4 separate regions of the Homo sapiens genome follow, and all the other regions are linked to region 1. Evidence: fine-mapped expression QTL. A gene starts in region 1. Each other region holds a variant in brackets. All regions are shown on one strand. Distances are from middle to middle.

Region 1 (5,680 bases):
CTATTGGCCAATTCTACTGGTGATAATGCTTTCTACAGTTTAAAACAGGGCCACCTTTTGGACAAAAAGAAATGAGAAAAAATTCTAAGGATGACAATAACATATATACGAATAAATACACTGAATGTACCCTAAAATTACGTGTATAAATATACAACTGTGTGCTGATAGACATACAAATATTTTGCATGTATGCATATGTGATTATATACATTCTCCTACATACAAACCCATCTAAATTTAATAGGCCCACAACTTGAAACTAAATCCCTTAGGGAAATCAAGGTATGAACTAGAGAAATAAAAACACAGAATTATTTTCTTAACAATAGCAATAATTTCCAATTTGTCACATATATCAAATCCTGTTTCTTGAATAGGAGGTCCTCCAGTCAGAAAAGCAATCCTGTCTACTTATATAAAAATGATAATAATGGAAAGCCTTTACCATCTACTTTAGAATCATGTAATACGTTTAATATGTTGATTTACTATCATATGCTACCAATGTGTACAAAGATAATTCAAAGAGTGTTGCTGTTTACAACCAAGAATCTTAAATTTTATTCATCTTAAAAATAATTGAATTGTTCTCCATGGAATAGCCTCATGTGATTCCCCACTTTGTTTTGATATGGGTCCCTGGGGAACAACAGTCATGCTATGTTACTCTTGCATATTTCACTAGCTTACAAATAAAATAACACACAGTGTACTCAATATAAAGTTGTCAACATTAACTTGCATCAGTTGCTGTTTGTTTCACATTGACAAGGCTTCTAAAGATAAGAATTACAATATTCTTAGATGTACAGACACAACATCAAAACAGCCTGAAGGAATTAAAGCTGGAAAATGCTAGAGGCAATCACGCTTTGAAATGAAGAGAAATCAGTATCATTTATACGTACACATATATTTCTTCAAAGGCTCTAAATAATGCCAGAACAATATGCATTTTATGCAATGCTCATCCGTCTTCCCTCACAATATTCCGAAAGCACTTTAACTGTTTAACGCATCTCCTCCAAGAGGGCTTTCACTTTTTCAAACTCATTATCACTTTCAAATCTGTATATTACAAGAAACTGGAATGAGCAATATCCATTACATGAATAGACATTATTAATATAAAGTCTCTATCAAAGTGGCAACGCTAGTAAAACAAAAGCAGAGTGTGTTAACCATAAACTAAGTACCAGCCAATATTACCACTTTGCTTGACAGAGCCGTCTCCAACAGCACGCACCCACCTCTCGAGCGGGCCCACCAGCTCAGCTTTCCAAGCTCGCTCACCTGCGTCTCTCCTCCAGGAATCAATTTCCTTCCCACTTTCTCCACCCTCTTCAGATCCCTTAAGCACGCTTCATTGCTTTCTCCAAACTACCAGACTCAAATCTGCAGCCCAGTTGGCCAGGAACCTTTCCATACGCACGTATTTCCTGCATTCTCCTGGGTCTGCTTTTAAAAATTGCTACCACCAAACAAATGCAATCTTAACAAAATTGGGATTACAAAGCCAGTTTTTTTCATGTAATGTTACAGCAGTGAAAGATTGAGGGAGAGAAAAGGAGAGAAGCAGGAGTGTATCTGGGTGAAGAAGCGTGGCTCAGTGGCTATACAGTGAGACGCAGAGATTCCACAGAGCTGGGCTTGCCCACCTGTCGACCCCACTTTCCCCATGTGCTCGCCGCGGGATGACAACCACAACACTCCAGAACCACCCCCCTTCCGAAAGAGGGCGGGGTTACGCCTTCAGCCAATCAGGACCCGCGAGCCCCGGGTGTCCAACCTATGGGGTGGCTGTGGCCGTGCAGGGGGAGGACGTGGGGTGGTCTGGGAGGGGCCGCGTCCGTGGGAGGCTCGCACGTGTCGGGTCCGGAGAGGCGGGGAGGCGGCCGGCGTCCAGCGGCCGAGGCGCGGGCTCTGCACCCTGGCAGCGGCCGAGTCCGGCTGCCCCAGTGCCTCCTTTACCTCGCGTTGGGCCAGGCAGGGCGCGCTCCCGCCGACGAAGACCTGTCCAAGGTGTCCGAGCTCCCCGCGAGAGGGGACAGTCACGAATAACAACAGTACCCAGCGCAGACTAGGCGGGGAGGAAAGTTTCCGGCCCGCAGCAGAGCGGAGTCCGCCAAGGCTGGAGGAAAAGGGATGCAGAGCGGGAGGGTGAAAACCTGAAAGAAGAGGGCAGCGGGAACACTGTGTGGGCAGGAACGGGTCCCGGGGGCGACGCCCGCAGGGGGAGACGGGTGCGGGGTGCGCTGTCCAAGGTGCAGGGGAGGTGACTGGCGCGCGGCGGGCGCGGAGCCCGGAGCTGACACTGGCTGGCGGGCGGAGGGGAGAGCGGGGAACAGCTGTCTGGGGCGCTGGGCACCCCCGGGCGCGTAAAAGTGAGGGAGCTTGAGACGGGGCACGGCGGGGAAGGGCGTGGGGGCTGCACCGAAGCCCCCACGCGTCCACGCACCCCTCCTCACCAGCCTCACCTCTAGCTCCACTCCCCTCCCCCCTCGCCCACTCCCCTCTCAGTCTAGATCCAGGTGCCGTGGCGGGGGTGAGACCAGAGGACCCCGGCTCGGAGCCCGGACGCCCCAGGGAGGCTGCGGGCCCCGGAGCTGCTTACCTGGGGCCGCCGTATGGGGAGCGGAGGCAACCCGCTGCGCGGAGTGGGGCGCCGGGCGCGGCGCGGCTCCTCCTAGCCTCGGCGTCCTCCTCCTCCTTTGCTTCTCCCGGACTCTGTCCCGGGCACGGAGCTGGGAGACGCGGCCGGGCTGCAGTCGCCGTTCCCTCTGCTGCCGCCGCCGCTGCAGCAGACAGAGGACGCCCCGTGGCGGCTGGAAGCCTGTGTGAGTAGCGGCGCCCGGGAGAGCGGGGATCTGCTGAGGGGCGCTGGAGACTCCGCGGCTGGAGGCGCGCGGGCGTGCGCACGCGCGCCTGCGAGTGTGAGTGTATGGGTGCGCGCGCGCCCACGGGGTGGGGGAGTCGCGAGGGGAGGGGGAGAGAGGCCGAGAGATGCTCGTAGGGACCGAGGCAAAATTCTACGACCCCGGAAATCCGTAAACGCGGGGAAGGAGGATCGAACGCGTGTCTCGCTTGGAGAAGCTGCCCACGGGGCGGCAGCAGAGGAGGAGGGGAAGTCAGCGAGGCGCGCTAGGGCTCCGGATCCCAGCCCGGCAGAGCCGAGCGGAGCGCGCAGCCACCGATGCAGCAGAGGCGGCGCCCGCAGCCCACGGTCGCGCTGCCCCCTCTCGGGAGGGGCCGAGGCCGCTCGCTCCCGCCACCGCCGCCGCGGTCGGGACTGCTCTACTGGGAGCGGGGGAACCGAGAGAGGGACCGCACGGTTGCTACGGCGACCTTGGAGGGGCCGGGCCCGCTGAAGGGCCAAGAGAAGAACCCGGGCGCACGTGGCCGACTCCAGGCTGGAGCGGGCGTGTTACAGGATTGTGGGCTTGGGGTAGACGGTGGAATTGGGCCGCGTGGCCTGGGCAGATGATGCGGGGTGTGCGGCCCAGAGTGGCTCGGCCGGGGTGCGGTCAGCATTCAGGTTGGTAAGGGTGAGGGGATCCTAACCCCAGGTGACATGTTGCCTTTTTTTCCTCCTTGGAGGCTACTTTTTCTCAAAGTTACCCACTTCCCAGGTAAGAATGCCGGCCTCCTCTTTGTTAGGATTCAACTTAGCTGTGCAGGCATCTAAGCAGTGCCTCCTTAGAGTCAGGCTCGTCCAAGAACCGCTCCCACCACCTCCCCACACACACCCACATCCCCCGATCCTCCATCCCAACTACATTGTAATACTTCAGAAATAAATGTTTAAAGCACATTTACATTCTCTGCCTCTTAACAGATATATTGTCTTAGTAGTATACTTTTCCTTGCTTATTTTAAATTCTGAGTGGGATTTTATTCACACAAGCATTTCTTCAAGGGTCGTAAGGTCTGGGTAATACTTGAAATACCCTTTCTGGCAGGAATCCTCAATGCAGGGATTGTGTTTTGCACACTTTTGCATGCCTTCCAGTGCTTAGCATAGTACTCTGTACTTTGTGAGTTCCCTGTAAATGTTGAATGAATGACATTGTTTTCTAGCTTCACGTAACCTGAAGGCAAAGACTTGGATGCTGGGAAAGTCATTACCACCCCACTAGGCTTGCCTGATTTTAACTTATGCCATTTCCTTGTGTGTGGCTATTTTTCCCCCTGGCGGTCAGAACCCCAATGCAAAGAAAGAAAATAATACTTATCCATTGTGCACCCTTAACAAAGGATGCATGTAGAAGCACTCTGCAGGGACCCCAGTGGGATGCCCTGGGTGTGAGGGGGCCAAAGCTCAGAACCTAACCTCTCAAAATGTGAAAGTCAGTGTTCACCAGCAGTTTATACTGTCCCTTCTAGAGCAGAAGGATGGGGAAAACAGTTTTAAGAGAAATACACTTTTGTTTTTTGTTTTTTGAGACGGAACCTCGCTCTGTCACCCAGGCTGGAGTGCAGTGGCGCGATCTCGGCTCACTGCAACCTCTGCCTCCCGGGTTCAAGCGAATTCTCCTGCCTCAGCCTCCTAGTAGCTAGGATTACAGGCGCCGGCCACCACGCTCGGCTAATTTTTTTTTTTTTTTTTTTTTTTTTTTTTTTTTAGTTTTTAGTTTTTAGTAGAGACACAGTTTCACCATGTTTTCCAGACTGGTCTCCAACTCCTGACCTCAAGTGATCCGCCTGCCTCGGCCTCCCAAAGTGCTGGGATTACAGGCATGAGCCACCGCTCCAGGCCAGAAATACACATTTCTAATAGCTTATCAGGTACGCATTTTTCTCCTGTAAAGAGTAGTGTTCATGGACACTGACCAATACATGCAGGGTCACCCCAGACTGCTAATTCTGCTGTCTGGTGTAGCACCAAGTCCACATCCTTCGACCTCGGTATTTCTACAATCATCGTCTTAGAAGCAGAAGTCTTCAATTTTGCATTTCATGCTAAATTTCAATTCCTTTGAACTCAGGCCCGCCTATGAGCTGCTTCTCTCTCCACTCATGATACCACAGCTGTGAAATATAACTGAAATAAAGTGAAAATTAAAATGGATTTATTTGGGTACCGTGTGTTCTTTAGTGGGGGTCCCTTTAACTGATTTATCTACCTTCACTCAATTGACAATCTTCTTAGAAGACATTTGTTGTGATATTGGAGCTTTTTTATTAGGTTGAAAGCTTACTTAAATTTCTCACTTGAAAGGAAGCTCTAAAACTTGCAAAAGAAGCAGAAAAACTCTGATACCGAAAATGGACCCTTGACAGCCAACCTATAGAATGGGTATGAGTCAGAATTTTCCAAAACAATTTTAAAGCTTCATTTTCCTTAGAAAGTTGCTTTTAGGGTTTTGTTGGGCTCAGAAACTAATACCGGAAAATATGGCACTTTGACATGCTGGACTGAAGAAGCAGCCTCAAAGTCTCTCTGACCCTCTCTCTGCCTCCTGTCTCTCAGTCGTCTGTCTCACCCAAAGCACAGGATGAAATTGTTCTCTGAAGGTCTTTCATCTGCCTAGAAACCAGATCTGCCAAAGAAGAACGCACTTGCCTTCCCTGAGTTTTTATTAATCTAACTCACGTCGTAGGAAGAAAGATTGAAGCCTGTCAACACAACTGGACATACTTTTGTCACACTCCTCTGCGGGCCCAACAGACTTTATCC
Region 2 (5,680 bases), 450 kb before region 1:
CAGACACTTGAGGCTTTTACAATTTTACCCAAGAAGATAGATGAGGGCGTGACAGTGGAGAACTGTCAGTGCCCTGCGCAGCTGTCTTTGACAATAATTCTGACCAATCTTCAGCACCTGCAGAATGCAATGCACATAACCTCAGGGTTGAAATGTGGCTTAAAATTCACAGTGTAGCCCAGGAGGAGTAACCTTCACAGCAAGGTATAGGCAGAACATTTGCACAGAGTAATATCTGATTGCCTGTTCTATGATCACTTTAGGAGCTTTGAACCTCATGGTTGGGTCCTGGAAGATACCTGTATTTAGATATCCAGAGACGATAAAGGATCCACATGGTTGACATAAGAACTGTGGAATCTTAAGGGTGGAAAGGAACTTTAAGGGATTACTGGTTAAACCCTTTTATTACAGAGATGAGAAAAAGGAGACTGAAGTTGCTTAAAAGACTTTCCCAAAGTCACAAGGCTAATTAGTGGTCAAACTTGGATTAGAACCAGATCTCTCTGCCTTGTCAAAAGTCTTTCCACCATTTGCAGCTTTTAAGACCTAAGATGAGGCTGATGCCATTACCTATCACAAATGTATAAAGTTGCATGACAGTTCTAACCTTTCCAATCTCCAGGTTGAAATGATATTGATAACGGTACTCTAATACTCCTACTGTAAAATTCTCAACTAAAGTATATGCCGTATGCTCCACTTTAAAGAGAATGGCATATTAGAGCTAAGATCATTGAGATCACGGTTTACTAAAAAACACTTAGGCTGTGTTCTGCAATATTAGGTTCTAGCCCAATTTTCAGCACCACGTTCCTTTCCACCTGTGATTGGTCAACAACCAATATTTTTTTTCTTAGGTCTTCTATGTGCTTACAAGAATTATGCCAGGTCCAGAAGTGGCACAGTGAGGTAGAAAAGAGAACAGTAAGTGGCTCATGTCTCTATTTAGCCTAAAATCTTGCTAGAGGGAAAATCAAGCAAACAAACCAATAAACTTGATGCACATAAAATAATTAGAAAATAAGTAAGTCCTCAAGTAGATAGTATTAACAAGCGCTGCAGAAGGTAGGTGAAAGGGAGATGATTATGGGTTATAATGGATAAACAAGGTTTCATGGAGGAAATGTGATAGAAGTGGACTTCAATTTTGGCACTTGGAGGAGGGGAAATAGTTCAGGCAAAGGAAACAGCACAAGCAAATGTGTGGAGGTAGGAAAGAGGGTAGTGCCAGAAGCAAATACTTCATTTTTTAGCCAGATAGCAGCATTTATACTCAGTGTGATGACAGCACACCTCTTCAACTCTACCTATAAGCTGTACCTTTACATTTATAATATTCTTAATTTTCATTTTACACACACACACATACACACACACACACTTAGAAAGCAAACTGTACAAGGAGCCAAGAGTCTTGGTTCTAAACTGCCCATAAACTACTAAATGACCAAAGCCTCTCACGTCTGCTCTCTGAGACTCAGTTTCCTCCTCTGTAAAATGACAGGGTTTGGCCCAACCCTTTAAGATCCCTCTTAGCTCTAACATTCTATAATTTCTGCTTTTTATCCATGCTCATTATATGTATGGCACATATTCTTAAATTAATGTTAATCAACCCTTCTGCACTGCTGCTGGCTTTCCCATTTGCCTTTTCTCCAGTTTGTTCCCTTCTCTCTTACCAGGAAGCATGTTGGGAAAGTAGCAAAATGGGGATATCATGGAGTGTTTAAATTTTTATTAGATATGTGTGTGTTGTAATTGTTAAAAGGCATGCAAAACTTATCATCTTGGCATGCATATTAATAACTGAATGTGGTAGTCCATGCTTCCTGAACTTTATAAACAGCTCCTGTACGAGCTTTGAAATGACAAGCTTTGTTCATAACTGAGAAACTGAAAGTGGGCAGGCCTATGGGGAGTTTCTGTGAAGTATGCATTTTTAAAAAGCAAAGATAAAAACTCCAACGTCTCCGAGTTGGAAAACCTGGGGAAGTTTCTGGCAAATGGACGGGTTAAGAAATGACATAAAGATGAGACTAGGATGCTATCGGGATAAGGTGACATGACAAAGATGATTTACCTGTTCCGAATTTTTTTTTCTCTTTCTTCTATATCTAGGAAATGAGGTCTATCCAGCTGGCCCAGAAGGGAGGAGAAAGCCCCAGGTGCCACAGCAGGATAGACGATGTCCTCATCTAACATTTTTCATAACTGGACATCCATGGTCAGAAGAGAAAAATCGCCCTACACAGAAGTGAATGGATGCCATACTCCCCAAAATTCAGGTTGGGTTTTTTTTTTTTTTTTTTTTTTTTTTTGAGATGGAGTCTCGCTCTGTCACCCAGGCTGGAGTGCAGTGGCGCCATCTCGGCTCACTGCAAGCTCTGTCTCCCAGGTTCACGCCATTCTCCTGCCTCAGCCTCCCGAGTATCTGGGACTACAGGCGCCCGCCACTGCCCCCGGCTAATTTTTTGTATTTTTAGTAGAGACGGGGTTTCAC[C/T]GTGTTAGCCAGGATGGTCTCGATCTCCTGACCTCGTGATCCGCCCGCCTTGGCCTCCCAAAGTGCTGGGATTACAGGCGTGAGCCACCGTGCCCGGCCTCGGGTTGGGTTTAATTACAGCCCCCTGACACTTTAAGCTAAGACTTTGCTAAAAACAATGACTGTTTGATATTTAATAGCTGGTCCTGGGGTGAAGACCAGAGATATAAAAAAGGTTAGAACTTTCATAAATACGGGCAGAACTAAACACCAACAAAGCTAGAGGGTAACTGATGGACTTTGATGGAGACCTTTGAATAAATCACAACTTTTTCTTTATGTTATTATGAATGACTTGTGACGTTTTTCAAACAACTTTTGTTAAGCACTGAACTTCAGGAACGGTGGCTGGAGAGCAATCTAGGCCAAACATTTGAGCCTATGGATCCTTTCCAAATGAAAGCAAGAACAAGTACACAAGCACAGAAAGGAGATAGGTGCATCTAATCCAGCTCATGGATCACATCTGAAGTTTCCCTTGTCCTATTCAACCAATTGGTTATTTCCAGCCAAATCCATAAGGGGACCCACATGCTTTTACCATGCTTTGAATTCTGCAATGTACCTGATCTTCCCTAGAAGCTGCGGAGTGAGCCCTCCGTGTTTGGCTTGTTTGCGGCCTGCTCCACTAGTTAGCCAGTTTGCCAATACACCTGCTTCCAAACCACCTCACAACAATTTCCCAACATGCTTGGCTGTTTAGTGGACAGGCTACCATGGAATGCCATGAAGGACGGCATTGACACTGGGGAGATCTTTCGGCACTGACACTAAGGAGATCCTTTATGTGGAGAGGGAGCAGTTGGGGCTGCTATGGAATAACCAGGAGATTTCCAGCCACCTGGGAGAAGGAAAGCTGAGGTGCAATTCCTGAATACTCATGCTTAACAATTCTAATCTCATTCTAAGGGAAGAAGCCAAAATGTGATTCCTGTGGTATTTGCCAGGAATATTAATGCAGACAAATGGGGTGTGACTGGTTCTGCTTTTGGAAAATGCAGCAAGTGTGTCAGTCACTGAGGACTTTAGCAGTTATTGTTTTACAAGCATCCCCAAAGTCCTGACATCAAACACATCTTACCACACTGAACAGAGCTGTGGAAAGCAAGAAGTACAGTTGAGACACAAACATAGCTCCACTAGAGAGAGGGAAATTCGGGACAGGAAAGGAGAGGCATTTGGATTAAAGGATGAGGAGATGTGTATGTACCTACCATGTTAGTCAGGTTACTGCTAATAGTTTCACAGACTGGGTTCCTTTTTGCAGCCCTTTTTGTAAAAGCACATAGAAGAGAATGGAAAGTTCTGAGGTTGCTCAATGAGATATGCAATCTTCTGGTTCTGCCTCACAGGCTTAATTCTAGCCCAGGCTCACATTTAAGGTATCCCCCATCTTCGAGTCATCCTGAAAGATCTTGGCTGTCAAAGACTCACAGGAAGGCTCCTCAGAGTCTCCATTGCTGGGATGTGTACACCGTGGCCAGCACTGTAGGATTTTCACAATCTCGGTTGATATCTGCCAACTGCTGAAATACTTCTCAGAATCAAATTACAGGGCTAAGGGGGACTCCCAAATAGTAACAGGCAGATGGTAAATACAGAGGTTGTTGGATGGTTACAATTGGGGATACTACAACGTAAATTTCTGATGATTCTTTCACCCCAACTCTCCTAATATTTCCTAGCCTCTGACCAAGAATTTGGTAAAGTGTGGCAATTTCCAATAAAAAGTACAGCTATTGAGCTTTTTCTCTGATTTGCTTCATTATGCATGCAAGTTGAAACCTTGTTTCCTGCAGATGATGCTAATATCAATGCCAAACTACTCAACGAGGTCACCAGAAATTTCTGAACTCACTGTTTCAGGGTTCCCTCCTGCCTGTCTTCTGATCTACTCATTCATTCACTCACTCATCCACCAAATATTTCTTGCATATTTCTATGTTATAAGGCTTGATATATATTGATGACTTGATATATATTGATGTCTCTTCCTTTGTGATGCCTGCTATAATAACTAAAAGCAGACATATCATGAAATCACTACTCATTTGGATAAGTGTTACAAAGGACCTTCATAAAGATTCAGTGGGCTGGGCACAGTGGCTTACACCTGTAATCCCAGCACTTTGGGAGGCCGAGGCGGGCAGATCACGAGGTCAGGAGATCGAGACCATCCTGGCTAACATGGTGAAACCCTGTCTCTACTAAAAATACAAAAAATCAGATGGGCGTGGTGGCGGGCGCCTGTAGTCCCAGCTACTCGGGAGGCTGAGGCAGGAGAATCATTTGAACCCGGAGGCAGAGGTTGCAGTGAGCCGAGATTGCACCACTGTACTCCAGCCTGGGTGACAGAGTGAGACTCCATCTCAAAAAAAAAAAAGAGAGAGATGCAGTGATGGCAAATCTACTAGAAGAGGGTGGACCAGAAAAACCTCTCTGAAGAGGTGGCTCTTGATCCAAGACCTATAGGATAAGAAGAAGTCAAGCACACAGAGTATGGGAAAGGGCACCCCAGGCAGAAGGAACAGAACGTATAAAGCCGAGTGGTGGAAGGTGGTTTTGATGGGCTCAGGGGGAAAGGGGCCAGTGGAAATGATGCATGGTGAGTCTGAGGATAACTGAAGCTAAAGAAGTGAGCACAGAGAGCTCTGTCAGCTAGGGACAGTGAATATTCTCTAAATGCAATGGGGAGATACTCAAACGGTTTACTGGGGAAGACATGACCTGATTTGTATCAGATGGAATGTGAAAATAAATCAAACTAGAGTAGAAGTAGAAAGGGAAGCACTCTGTATGGCAAAAACTGCAAAATTCTTCCTAGTAGCCATTCTCCACTCCTGCCTTATTATGAGAACTCCAATTTTACTCTGGAGAGCAGCAGGCCCAGTCAAAAATTATATTTCTCGCATTCTTTGTAGTTAGGCATGGCCAGGTATAATAATTCTGCCTAATGAAACCTACATGGAAGTTGGCTGGGGATGGATTTTTGGGCAAGTTTGCTTTCTTGCTATAATGACGCAACTCCTTCCTGTGTCTTTCCTTCTCTTTTCTTATGTGATTTCAGCTGGAAAAAGAAGATGTGATGGCAGGCGAAGCAGCAGCAACCATCGTAGACAACTATCCAGGTAAAGCGAA
Region 3 (5,680 bases), 430 kb before region 1:
GAACCAATCCTCCAAGTGTACTGAGGGATGACTGCAGTTTTCTTGGTACAGCTGTGATTAGAAGCCAGGTCCCCAGGATAGGGTTCTTGAGATAGAAAAATCCGTCCTTCTTTATCATCATCAGGATATTTGTGTTAAAAACAACCATTTCCTGAATGGTTTCTATGTTGCAGGTGCCCTGCTAAGCACTTAATATCCATTATTTGATTTATTCCTCCTCACAGTCCTACGAGGTCATGCTGTTACTATCTTTATTTTATAGATGAGAAAATGGAGGCAGGCTCTAGGCCGTGAAACCCAGTGCCACAAACTCACCAGAACCCCCGTTGTCTAACAGCGGATTGTGTGTTATGAAATGTCTTCATTCTAGGCTTTGTCTTCCTTCTCCATTTTGTATTGCTTTTAGTTTTTATTTTCTACTTTGTAAGGTTTTACTGAAATAAGGGGTTTTAAAGTTCTCCATATCACTGTCTACCTTAGGAAAGTCTCTGCAGTATTGGAATAACCTCAAGTCTTCTGGAGTTTGCACAGAATTTCGTGGCAATAGAGGTGGACTGCAGAAATTAAGTAAAACCTGGCAGGAATGCTCAGATAGGTCCCCCTGCCCCTCCCCACCCCCACCCGCTACTGTTTTCCCACATTCCCCCATCAGCTTTGCCTCAGGAATAGGGAGGTGAAATGCAGAGGGACAGACTGAAAAATGGAGGTGGGGAGTGTGAGGGAAGGGCAGTGAGTTCAGTCTGAGAATGTGTCCTTCCAAAGCCAGCCCCTAATTCTTGGGTTTGGCAAAGGCCTTGCGGACAGACTCCATTCACTTGGCCCAATACCCACAGATGGGAAGGCAGCACTAGGCCTAATCTCAGTATCTGTAAAAATCGCCTATAAAAATTGACACCAGAGGACAAGGCTTAATGAACCACCAACGAGGCAATGATACTGGGCCTTCTCCTAGGGCCCCTAAGCTACTTTCCTGCAAGGAACTGACCTTGCTTTGGTACCTTGGTGTCCAGAAAGTGAATCCACTTCCAAAAACCTGAAATTATTCTGAGAGAGTACTTTACTCCTCCTAAGGATTACATCCAGTAAGAATAATGGTCCTTAGTACTCATAATATTGCTTCTCATCTAATAAGCACTTGAGAACATTAATTAGAAACTCGATGGAATTCCTAAAGACTGGATGGTGGGAAATTGCTCCTGCAGTGAAGTACCTTCACAGGCTTAGCGCAGAGCTTCTGGCAGCCAAGGAAGAAGGCAGAATTCCTCCTTTTCCAGCCCCAAACTATGAAGACTTTATTTTGCATGAAGGCCAAAGGGAATAAGCTCATATTAACATCACAAAACATAACAAAATGCCTAGAAAACTCCTTATGTAATGCAAAGTACCAGAAAGGTAAATGGCTTTATCAACCATGAATTCCTCTGCAAAGCGAATGTGACAAAAATTCTTCTTGCTTTTCCGAATTGCTGTAATATCACCGCACTGTTCAAAGACTTCTTGAATAATTTCCTCAGTAGCATTTTCTGGTAATCCTCCGACAAACACGGTCTTACACCCAGGAGGTCGTTCTCTTGTGGAAGGAGGTGGAAGATCTAATAATCACAACAAAACAGAAAGTTTTATCTTTCATTTATTTGCTTTCTCTGGTTCTCCTGGCAAAACTAAAGCTTGCAGAGTAACTTTCTCCAGACTGAGTGACGGTAAATTTCTATGCCAACTTAACATTGATCCCAGGCTGTCTTGTTTCTAAGTTCCTCTCCCCTCCTGCTCCCAACCTTTACTTTCTGTGTTCATTGCTACACAGAGTGGCTATATGCTTGTCCATGAACAAAGATAAAGCAAATGTTTGCATAATTTCATTTCTCCTTTATACTACAGAAGCCCAGAAAAGGGAGGGAAAAAACTTCCCAAAGTACAAAACATGACGAAATGACAACATGATGAAAAACCTCAGCGTGTTATCTGCTTTGTCTTGTTTCCAGATAAAGGAGCGGCAAAACAGAATACGGGAAGCATAACCTACAAAAGCACGCACAATACTTACTTGGCTGTGAAACACCGGGCCTGAAAAAAACCACTTTGTTATTATTCACATTTAAATGAGCAAACTATTAAATTTTGGGAAGGCTGTATAAAAAGATACAATGTACACTCTCACAATATTTTACCTAGTTTATATGTAGATTACTAAAGCAATCTCCTGAAAAGTCCACTTAAAAAAGGCAACACTGATTAATATGAATGACAAAAAAAAAAAAAAGTCCTAGCTCTTTTAGCCCATAAACTTAGTATCTGAGGCAAAATTAAAAAAATAAAATTCTGGCCCATTTACTTCATCAAATGTATGTTTCCTTCAAGCAAATACAATTTGGTCCAGAAACTCTGAGATGCAGGCTTCCCTCTCCCCAGCCCCCAAATTGCTAACTGTCAAATTAATTCCATTTTCCATCTAGCAAAACATATTTCAGAGTTTTTCACCCACATTTGTGAAGATGGATGGAAATGCTCACATATTTCACACTGTGTTCTCCGGCAAACACTAGGCTTCACTGCATGCAAAAAGTCTTAACGCTGGATACACATCCCTAAATCCCACATACTGGCTTTATAGTGTGGATTCAGCTTCTGGACAGACACGTGGCCACATCCCTGTATATTTATTGTAACCTAGAGACAAAAGGCCTTCTGTAGAACGGATCCCCACTCTGTGCATTTACGTGTGAGTCACATCTGAAAATGACTGCAATGCCATTTTAAAATTTAAAAAGAAAAACATTTAAAATGAGCAAATATTTCTCATAGG[C/T]GTTACTTACTTGGATTTTGAGGAAAAAGAGTACAGCTTTTGCAGTGGATTATTTCTTTGACAACAGCCACTTCTGTTGGTGGTGGGGGAGGTACCAGTCCAAGGCCTGGTATCATTGGGTTAATGGGGGTGATTCCAGTCATCATGTTGAGGCTTGGATCAAAGCCTGGGACACAGATTGAGTCTGTAAAGTATACAAGATAACATTTTGACTGGAGATTAAATCCATTTTTGTTGTTGTTTTTGCCATTTTCCTGTGGATTATTTGACTTTATACTTTCTATTTTTCAGGAATTTCTCCTGGCATAAGATATAATATTATAGAAAGCTATGCCAGAAGGGTAAAGAGAAAAAAAGTAAAAGATGAACATTAAACTACATGAAAAGGAAATTATATTACTTAAAATATTAACATGGCAGAAAGAACACAGCATATTAAAATGTAAAAGCATGCACCATGAAGCTTCACTATTACTGTGAATGCAATTTTCTATTTCTTAACGTTGGTGTATTGTTTATACCACCTTATGACCCAGAATATGGGAAGAATATCATTTAACATTGAAGTGCTCTGTGAATCTAATTGTCAACGTGGTTTCATCAAAAGAGCCTTCTTACCCAAGTGACCTAGATTTAGGAAAGTTCAATTTATATGTGCATACTTTATAATGATGTATTCAGGTCCCACCTAACCTATTTCCCCTGGAATAAAAAAAAAAAAAAAAGCAAAACAAAGAGTGATTACAATTACTATGGCTGGGTTAGATACATGCAGGCATAAAATTAGCTATATACATTTCTGGCTTCTATTGGATAATTGCACTTTCTTCCTATAATTTAGTCAACAAAGAATTGACCCACCCTTTTGAAATCTTTATGCCCTGTATTACACACACACACACACACACACACACACACACACTTGAAAATAGAAAGTGTGCAAAACAAATGGGTTTTCCAGCTTTTTTTTTTTTTAGTGTGATAATGAAGCAAGTGATTTCAAAGGTGGCATACAGACACTAATAAGTAAGACCTTTCTAACAGCAGGGGCTATGAAAATACTATACTGAGTAGCCACAAGGGGATCCCGTTCATGAGGGTTTCCCTGTTGGCAGAAAAGTCTCATGGGTGGCGTGAAAATGTTCCCAGATAGACAGGCCAGGATAGATCATGGTGCCCTCCTCTACTCTGCAAGGATGAAACTTCCTTCTTGTCTCATACCATCCTATCTTCTTCTCCCTCCTCATCTTACATCACTTCCAGTCTTCCTTCCTGCCCGCCACCCCTGCCCCCGACAACCCCTTTGTACAGTTCTCCTGTACAGCCTGTGCCTTAGGCCTCCGCATGGCCTCACTCTTCGCTTACCTGTGCTGAAAGGCTGGAGGAGCCCAGAAGCAGATGTAAGAATAACCACACGCTTTGTTTACTAAGAAGCTCCAGAGAATACAGAAGGTCTAGCAAAAGCGTTTCCTTTCTGGGAAAAGGTTTACAGATTCCGCCAGCTACTTTGGACATTTCCACTCCTCCTCTGGGCTGAACAGAATAAACAATGTGATTCTGATCTATAACCCCAAGAGGACTGCTGTCCCATTTATTAAAAACTCCATTTAATTTCATAGTGTATCAGTGTGACTTCAGTAAAAGGAGGATTTTTTTTTAAAAGAAAAGAACCCTAAATATAAATGACAAATAAGCATTTTCTTTCAAAGTAGTCACCCTGACATTCTAGGTACTTCCTCTACAATTATGGCTCTCAGTTTCTTCATCTGTAATATGGTACTGTTTGACTGGATTATCTCTTGGAGTGCTAGAATTCCAAGACTCCAGGATTCCATGCTGATGTTGCTCAGTACAAACTGACACACAAAAGACTTAAAGTTTTATAAGTGACAGAGATGACTCTGTTTATTCTGTCAATCATCAGAAAGTTTCACAAGTATGATTTCCATTTTACAGAAAAGAAAGTAAGGCTTAAAGTACTTAAGTAAAACTTCTAACATTCCAAATCAAACAGATGGCAGAGTCAGAATGAGGGCCCAGGTCTTTGCCTCAGTATTTAAACATGTATTAAATGTGACTATTTCAAAGTTTCCATCTAGAATGACCCAACATGATTACTCATCTAATACATGCCACTACTTCTTAAAATGTACTTTACCCTTAAAAAAATCAAGATGGGTCCTGCCGATCAATTCTAAAGAAGTTCCAGAACAGAATGGTTTTCAACATCATCATCATTAAAATAACATATTGGCCTCCAAGGTGAATATATTAGAAAAAGAAATATTGGCAATGGGAATATTGGCATGCTTGTGCTTTTATTTAATCTCATTCCGTACATCGGCTTCATCTGTTTTTTTCCTGGCCTGGCCCTCGCTATTATTTGCCAACACAGGATGATTTAAGGCTGAAACCACTCAGGACTGCAAACCCTGAAATGAGAGCCCTGTGAATTATAATCAGCAGATGTTTCCCACAAATGAGAAGAGAAGCCCAGTGCTTGCATTCTCTTTAGTTGTTAACAGACTTCTGTTTTCTTTCTGAAGGCTAAGTAAATAAATATATGTCCAGAAATGGGGACAGAAGATACCACTCTTGTACAACGTATTTTAATATACAGCAAGAGTTGCTTTGCTTTTTTCTGAGACATCAGTATGAGGAGACTATGAGGTTTAATGAAATCTGCATGGCAAGTGCAGTAGCTTGAAAAGAGCTTAGAAAGGAATTAACACGTAAATTATGTTGGACCTGAAAGGATTGGAGATTCAGTATTTGAGAGGAGAAAGTAAGGAAGGATTAGACTTTAAGAAAAAAAAAGAACCCATTACTTTTTTAACAATATATGTAAAGATGGAAATTGTTTTCTCTAACAGCACA
Region 4 (5,680 bases), 28 kb after region 1:
TATGCTTGCCTTCTTCCCTGTGCTTTATGTGGGCTGTGTAAGAGGGGAAGCAGAGAACTCACCATATTTATAATTAAATAATTAGCCTAATAGCTCTTACATATCTGCCTTCCATGCTCAACTGGAAGCTCCATGACTGCCGAAACTATGTCTGTCTTTTCACTGTGGATCTGAATTTCTTCTCCACAGGTACGTTCTTGTTATATGAATGAGTGAATCTGTCAAAGTGTTAGGTATGTTGGGAGGTGTAGGTCAGGAGTGTGGCAGCCAGGACCAGGCTACTATTCAGCCTCTTTGTGTGAAGAGCAGGGGATTTGGGAGGGGTGAGTAGATCTGGACTAAGTCGTCTCCTGAGATCCCTTACAACCCACCCAACTGTCCGGGGGCTTTCTGATTCAGGGTCAGTCTGGTCTTACATATGACCTGCCATAGCTTTGAGGGTTATAAGATATATTATGATAGGTTTTGTTCAAGCACTTGTCAAAACAAAAAATTACCAGGCCATTTCTTTTCACTTTCAAGAGGCATGTTAAAATGGCATCAACCCATTAGTAGCATTTATACCTATAAACAATAGAAACATCTCAACTTAGTGTCTGCCTTTAAGAGAAAAATTTTAAAAATTAAATTGCCACTTCTTCATATTTATTTAGCATATTCACAGGCTAAAAAAGAAATAATTGCAGGTCTCTTAAAGGCCTTATGGCTTACTCCAGAGTCAGTAGTTTCCAGTTTAACTTGGACTAATGGGTTGGTCAGCTAAGGATTGCTTTGGAGAGGGACTTACTTTAATGATTACAGACAACACTGATTCTTAAAGACTTCATGTTCTGAAAAGCATTATAATGATGGAATGATTATAAATAATAATATTCATAGGACACTTTATAAAGAATCCTGCCATAGTTATGATTTCATGTCTAAACCAACGCAGGGAGTAGCACATGAACCAATGGTGTAGATCCTCAGAGACATGTTTCCCTGCTTCCCGACTCCCACCCAGCCTCTGAGTCTCCATACAGCTTGGACTCAAAGATTCTCTTTTATTCCTTCTCCATGATAGTTAGACCCCCGTGCTCAGTTTCGTGGTTGTTCCAGCACGCAAAGGCTATGGTTTGAAATATCCCAGCCTTTCCTTTCTATTTCATCCATATCCTGCCCATCGTCTCAAAGATAGCTCATCTTGTTCACTCCTTGAAAATTTGTGAAACATATTTGGTATTTCATTATATTAACTCTTTCAGTGCTGCTGAACTGTTTCATCTGCTTCAGGTATTAGTGGCAGGAAGGAGAGGACCATGCCTTGCACATTATGTTGCAGAGATTCCCTTAGTAGATGTACACTTGTTGAATAAATGGTCCAGAATCATACCAATTGGAATACTTTCTTAAATCAAGTTACATGTTTGTATGGTGCCCTAGAAAATGTCTAGCACTTCTTAGGTGTTCAATAAATATTAATACTGCACTTGTAACCTGAGATGTTGAATTTGGTTTTAAAATAAGCCAACAAAGTAAGCAAGCTACTTCCCAGGTATGTTACCTTTTATAACTTCTATGTTTACAACTCTACTACCATATTGAGAGAATAACTGTTTAACATGATGACCCTGTGGTAAAAATCCAAACTCATTAAAAAAGAAAAGTTTGAGTTTCAAGTCAGTTACAAGTAAAATCAAATAAAGGAAGAAAGGAAGGAAAGCATGAGGGAGGGAAGGAGAGAGGGAGGGAGGAAAGAAGAAAAAAAGAAAAATTAAAATGCATTTGACATATTGAATGTATTAATTCAATTGCCAACCATTCTTTTGCAGTGCCTCCTAATCCTGGACAACAGAACATTGCTGGACAACCATGGCAAAGCTGAGCTCAGTGGGCTCACCATGGATTTACTCTGATCTGCATTACTTAGATCATTAATGTCAATCCCTTTTTTCCCAGTAGCTTTATGTCTGTTCACATCATTTCATTCTCAATTGCACTAGCTCTGTGCTTTTACCCTTAGCTGTTATCCTCACCCTCTATCTAAACAAGAGCTCCTTTGATTTCCTTCCTCCTCACTTTAAAATTTTCTTTTGCCTTTGATCGTTCTCTTATTTTTCTCATCCTGTCTCAGGAATGCTCTTTCTTCCCAAGGCTATGCCTTCCTCTCTGTATGGATCCTGTCCCCTCCTGGCTTTCCAGGACTACTGCATGAATTACCTTCTATTTTCTTGCATCTTCAGTGTCACCCTTTTCATGAGCTCTGCAACAGTCCTATTGCCCAAGCTCTAGAAAATCCCCCTCTTAAATTATTGTATTTCTAGCCTTTCATTTACTATCTCATTTCTCAAAAGTGCAATAAACATGTAATTTCCCTTTTTCTACTCTTTTGGTTTGAGGCATATTATCCTTCTATTTCTCACACCTAAGGCCTCAAATTCCACCTGTAAGGGGGTGAGCTTGCACTTAGGTTCTAGGCTAAATCTAGTCACAAGAAAGCAACTAGTGCAGTTAGATTCACAGTTTAGAGTGTCTGTGGAAATGCTTCACCTTGGGATGGGATTCTGCCTGCATTACTGTTACTTAAGCATACTGATGCCACCTGGATATTCACCTGCTTCAGCTTCTGCCTGTTGACCCCTTGCACACTACTTTCTCCCCCTCTCATGTTTGGAAGAATCAACCTCAAAATGTTAACTTCATTATTGATAAAGCCAACTGGGGAACATGTCTTTAGATGTTTGGTCAAAAGCCTTGCTGAGTTGAATTTTCTCCTACAACAGCAGCCCAGAATGCACTCTCTCTGCACTTGGTTTGCAGGCTGGCTTATGGAGAGTCAGGGGTTAAGTGTTCTTCCAACTTTGCAAAAGATAAATCAGTCATCTACTAGGAAAAGAGGAAAATCAGAGA[T/G]AAGCTGAAAGCATTCCTCTCATAATTTTCCATTCCTGGGGAGTAGATTTGACATTTTCTTCCCTTAATGGAAACATGAGTCATGAGGAATAAATGCTCCCTGCTATCAGTCCTCTCTCTCCCTTCTAGGGCTTCTCCTGGTTCCTGTTCGGCCCCCAGAAAGCTTGTCTAATCTTGGCTAGCCTGATCCAGCCTCCACCAGCCCCGATGCTGCTGGTATACACTTGCTCCTTAACCACACATACTGTGGTTTCTGCTTTAACAATCAGCCATAGGATTTTAATTACCCAATCTAGCCACACGTTCTCAGTCCTTTTCTTCTCTAACTTCTCAGCTCAAAAATTTTGAATACATCCCATTTGATTGTGGACAAAGAGGCAATGATCATGGGGTAATGCACTATGTTTTTGTACACTAAGTTTCTTTTGTAAATACCATTGTTTCTGGCCAGGCGTGGTGGCTCACACCTGTAATCCCAGCACTTTGGAAGGCCGAGGCAGGCGGATTGCCTGAGGTCAGGAGTTCGAGATCAGCCTGACAAACATGGTGAAACCCCCTCTCTACTAAAAATACAAAAATTAACTGGGTGTGGTGGCACATGCCGGTAATCCCAGCTACTGAGGAGTCTAAGGAAGGAGAATTGCTTGAACCCAGCAGGAGGAGGTTGCAGTGAGCCAAGACTGCGCCACTGCACTCCAGCCTGGGTGAGAGAGCAAGACTCTGTCTCAGAAAAATTAAATAAATAAATAAATAAATAAAGCCATTGTTTCTAATTTTTTTTTTTAAAAAAAGCTGTTTCCTTAACATTCCAGTATGCTCTATTCTAAGGCTTTTCTAAAAATCAGTATTCATATAAAAAATACTTTCTACTGATGTAGAAGAGGGGTAAGAACTTTGGAGTGAAAACAGATTAAAGCTTGGGTTTGAATTCCAGTTCTGACACTTACTAATTAAATGACTTTATTTAATTTCTCATCACTTTAGTAATTTCATTTCTAAACTGGTGATTAACAGTGGCTAATGTGTATTAAATACATAATGCTAATCACTGAGGGCTTTATATGCATTATCTTATTTAATCTTACAACTCCATGAAGTAATCCTATTATTATTTCCATTTTACAGATTTTTAAAATGAGATTTAATGAACAAAAGAAACTCGCCCAAAGTCACACAACCAGTAAGTGAGAGAGTTTGGAATAAAATCTAATAAAACACATATTTGAACTCAAGTTTATGTAAATCCGAAGTTAAAGCTCTTAAAAGCTGTGCTTTTCTTTTTCTGTACTTAGTATATGCAAAGATCTCCTACAGTGCCTTGTGCTGATTATGAAGTCACCAGACAATAGCTGTCATTATCATCACTGCCATCATTATTATAAACAAAACATTACGTTCGAGCTTGGCCATCAGTCTTTTTGCAGTGTTTTTCAATTTGGTTTCTTATTATGGATTCACTAAAAGGAGTCAATTTCTCTTTTTATATGGACACTTTGTAGTAGAATTGAAGATAACAATTATTAGATAAATTGACATGGTGTTATTCATGTACTAGAAGGAAACATTGACATATTTCTTAATAAGCTGAGTATGAGAAAAACTTTCCTAACTATGACACAAAATACAAAAACAGTAAAACAATTGATCAGTTCAACTACATAAAAATAAAACAACTTTTGCATGGCAAAAGTAATATAAAAAAGTAAAAAGACAAATGACAAGCTGGGGAAAATAATTGCTACTTCTGTCACAAACGAAAGATTATTCTGGCATGAAGACAGCCACATTGACCTACAGGATAGAATAGAATGCCAAGAAACAAGCTCTCACATAGATGGTCAAAACATTTTTGACAAGGGGACCAAGACCATACAATGAGGAAGAAACAGCCTTCCACAGATGGTGCTGGGAAAACTGGGTATCTACTTGCAAAAGAATGAAGTTGGCCCCTGCTTTTATACCACATACAAAAATCAACTCAAAATGTATCAAATATTGGGCTGGGCATGGTGGCTCACACCTGTAACTCTAGTACTTTGGGAGGCCAAGGTGGGTGGATCACCTGAAGTCAGGAGTTCGAGACCAGCCTGGCCAACATGGTGAAACCCTGTCTCCACTAAAAATACAAAAATTAGCCAGGCATGGTGGCACATGCCTGTAATCCCAGCTACTTGGGAGGCTGAGGCAGGAGAATCACTTGAACCCAGGAGGCAGAAGTTGCAGTGAGCCGAGATTGTGCCACTGCACTCCAGCCTGGGTGATAGAGCCAGACTCTGACTGAAAAAAAAAGTATCAAAAATCTAAACATAAGAGCTAAAACAATAAAATTACTAGAAGAAAAAACATGGTGGAAAGCTTCATGACATTGGATTTAGCAAAGATTTCTTAGATATGATGTAAAATCACAGGCAATGAAAAATAGATAAATAGTTGAACTACATCAAAATGTCAAAATTCCGTGCACCAAAGGACATAGTAAATGATGTAAAAAGGCAACTAACTTTTTTTCCTTCATTTCAACTTTGGTGAAACTGACAATTATGTGTCTTGGAGTTGCTCTTCTCGAGGAGTATCTTTGTGGCGTTCTCTGTATTTTCTGAATTTGAATGTTGGCCTGCCTTGCTTGATTGGGGAAGTTCTCCTGGATAATATCCTGCAGAGTGTTTTCCAACTTGGTTCCATTCTCCCCGTCACTTTCAGGTACACCAATCAGACGTAGATTTGGTCTTTTCACATAGTCCCATATTTCTTGGAGGCTTTGTTTGTTTCTTTTTATTCTTTTTTCTCTAAA

Direction of the effects. Alleles are on the strand shown, and positions count from the first base shown. SD is a standard deviation of normalised expression in the study named.
As copies of C replace T in region 2, the expression in pancreas of the gene that starts at base 2,938 in region 1 goes down (moderate effect, 0.42 SD a copy in GTEx).
In carriers of allele T in region 3, the expression in tibial nerve of the gene that starts at base 2,938 in region 1 tends to be lower than with C alone (small effect, 0.27 SD a copy in GTEx).
For the expression in atrial appendage of the gene that starts at base 2,938 in region 1, G is the low allele of the variant in region 4 and T is the other (moderate effect, 0.57 SD a copy in GTEx).

Evidence for each region.
Region 2: its variant is fine-mapped to the expression of ENOX1 in pancreas (GTEx, PIP above 0.99).
Region 3: its variant is fine-mapped to the expression of ENOX1 in tibial nerve (GTEx, PIP above 0.99).
Region 4: its variant is fine-mapped to the expression of ENOX1 in atrial appendage (GTEx, PIP above 0.99). The same link has a PIP of 0.9 or more in left ventricle.

Annotation. Positions count from the first base shown.
Region 1 is chr13:43,784,035-43,789,714 of GRCh38, forward strand. ENOX1 (ecto-NOX disulfide-thiol exchanger 1) reads right to left here and starts at 2,938. Exons shown (of 17, transcript NM_001347969.2): 1 at 2,618-2,938. RefSeq lists a silencer at 1-113.
Region 2 is chr13:43,336,383-43,342,062 of GRCh38, forward strand. All of the region lies in intron 9 of ENOX1 (ecto-NOX disulfide-thiol exchanger 1), which reads right to left. Among named protein-coding and RNA genes, the nearest start is that of ENOX1-AS2, 110 kb to the right of the region's middle. The variant C/T (reference allele first, on the strand shown) is at 2,504.
Region 3 is chr13:43,358,466-43,364,145 of GRCh38, forward strand. It overlaps ENOX1 (ecto-NOX disulfide-thiol exchanger 1), which reads right to left. Exons shown (of 17, transcript NM_001347969.2): 6 at 2,814-2,987; 7 at 1,386-1,592. Among named protein-coding and RNA genes, the nearest start is that of ENOX1-AS2, 88 kb to the right of the region's middle. RefSeq lists an enhancer at 1,046-1,631. The variant C/T (reference allele first, on the strand shown) is at 2,804.
Region 4 is chr13:43,812,454-43,818,133 of GRCh38, forward strand. LOC124903166 (a long non-coding RNA gene) reads left to right here. Exons shown (of 3, transcript XR_007063773.1): 2 at 129-189; 3 at 1,812-2,363. Among named protein-coding and RNA genes, the nearest start is that of ENOX1, 28 kb to the left of the region's middle. The variant T/G (reference allele first, on the strand shown) is at 2,890.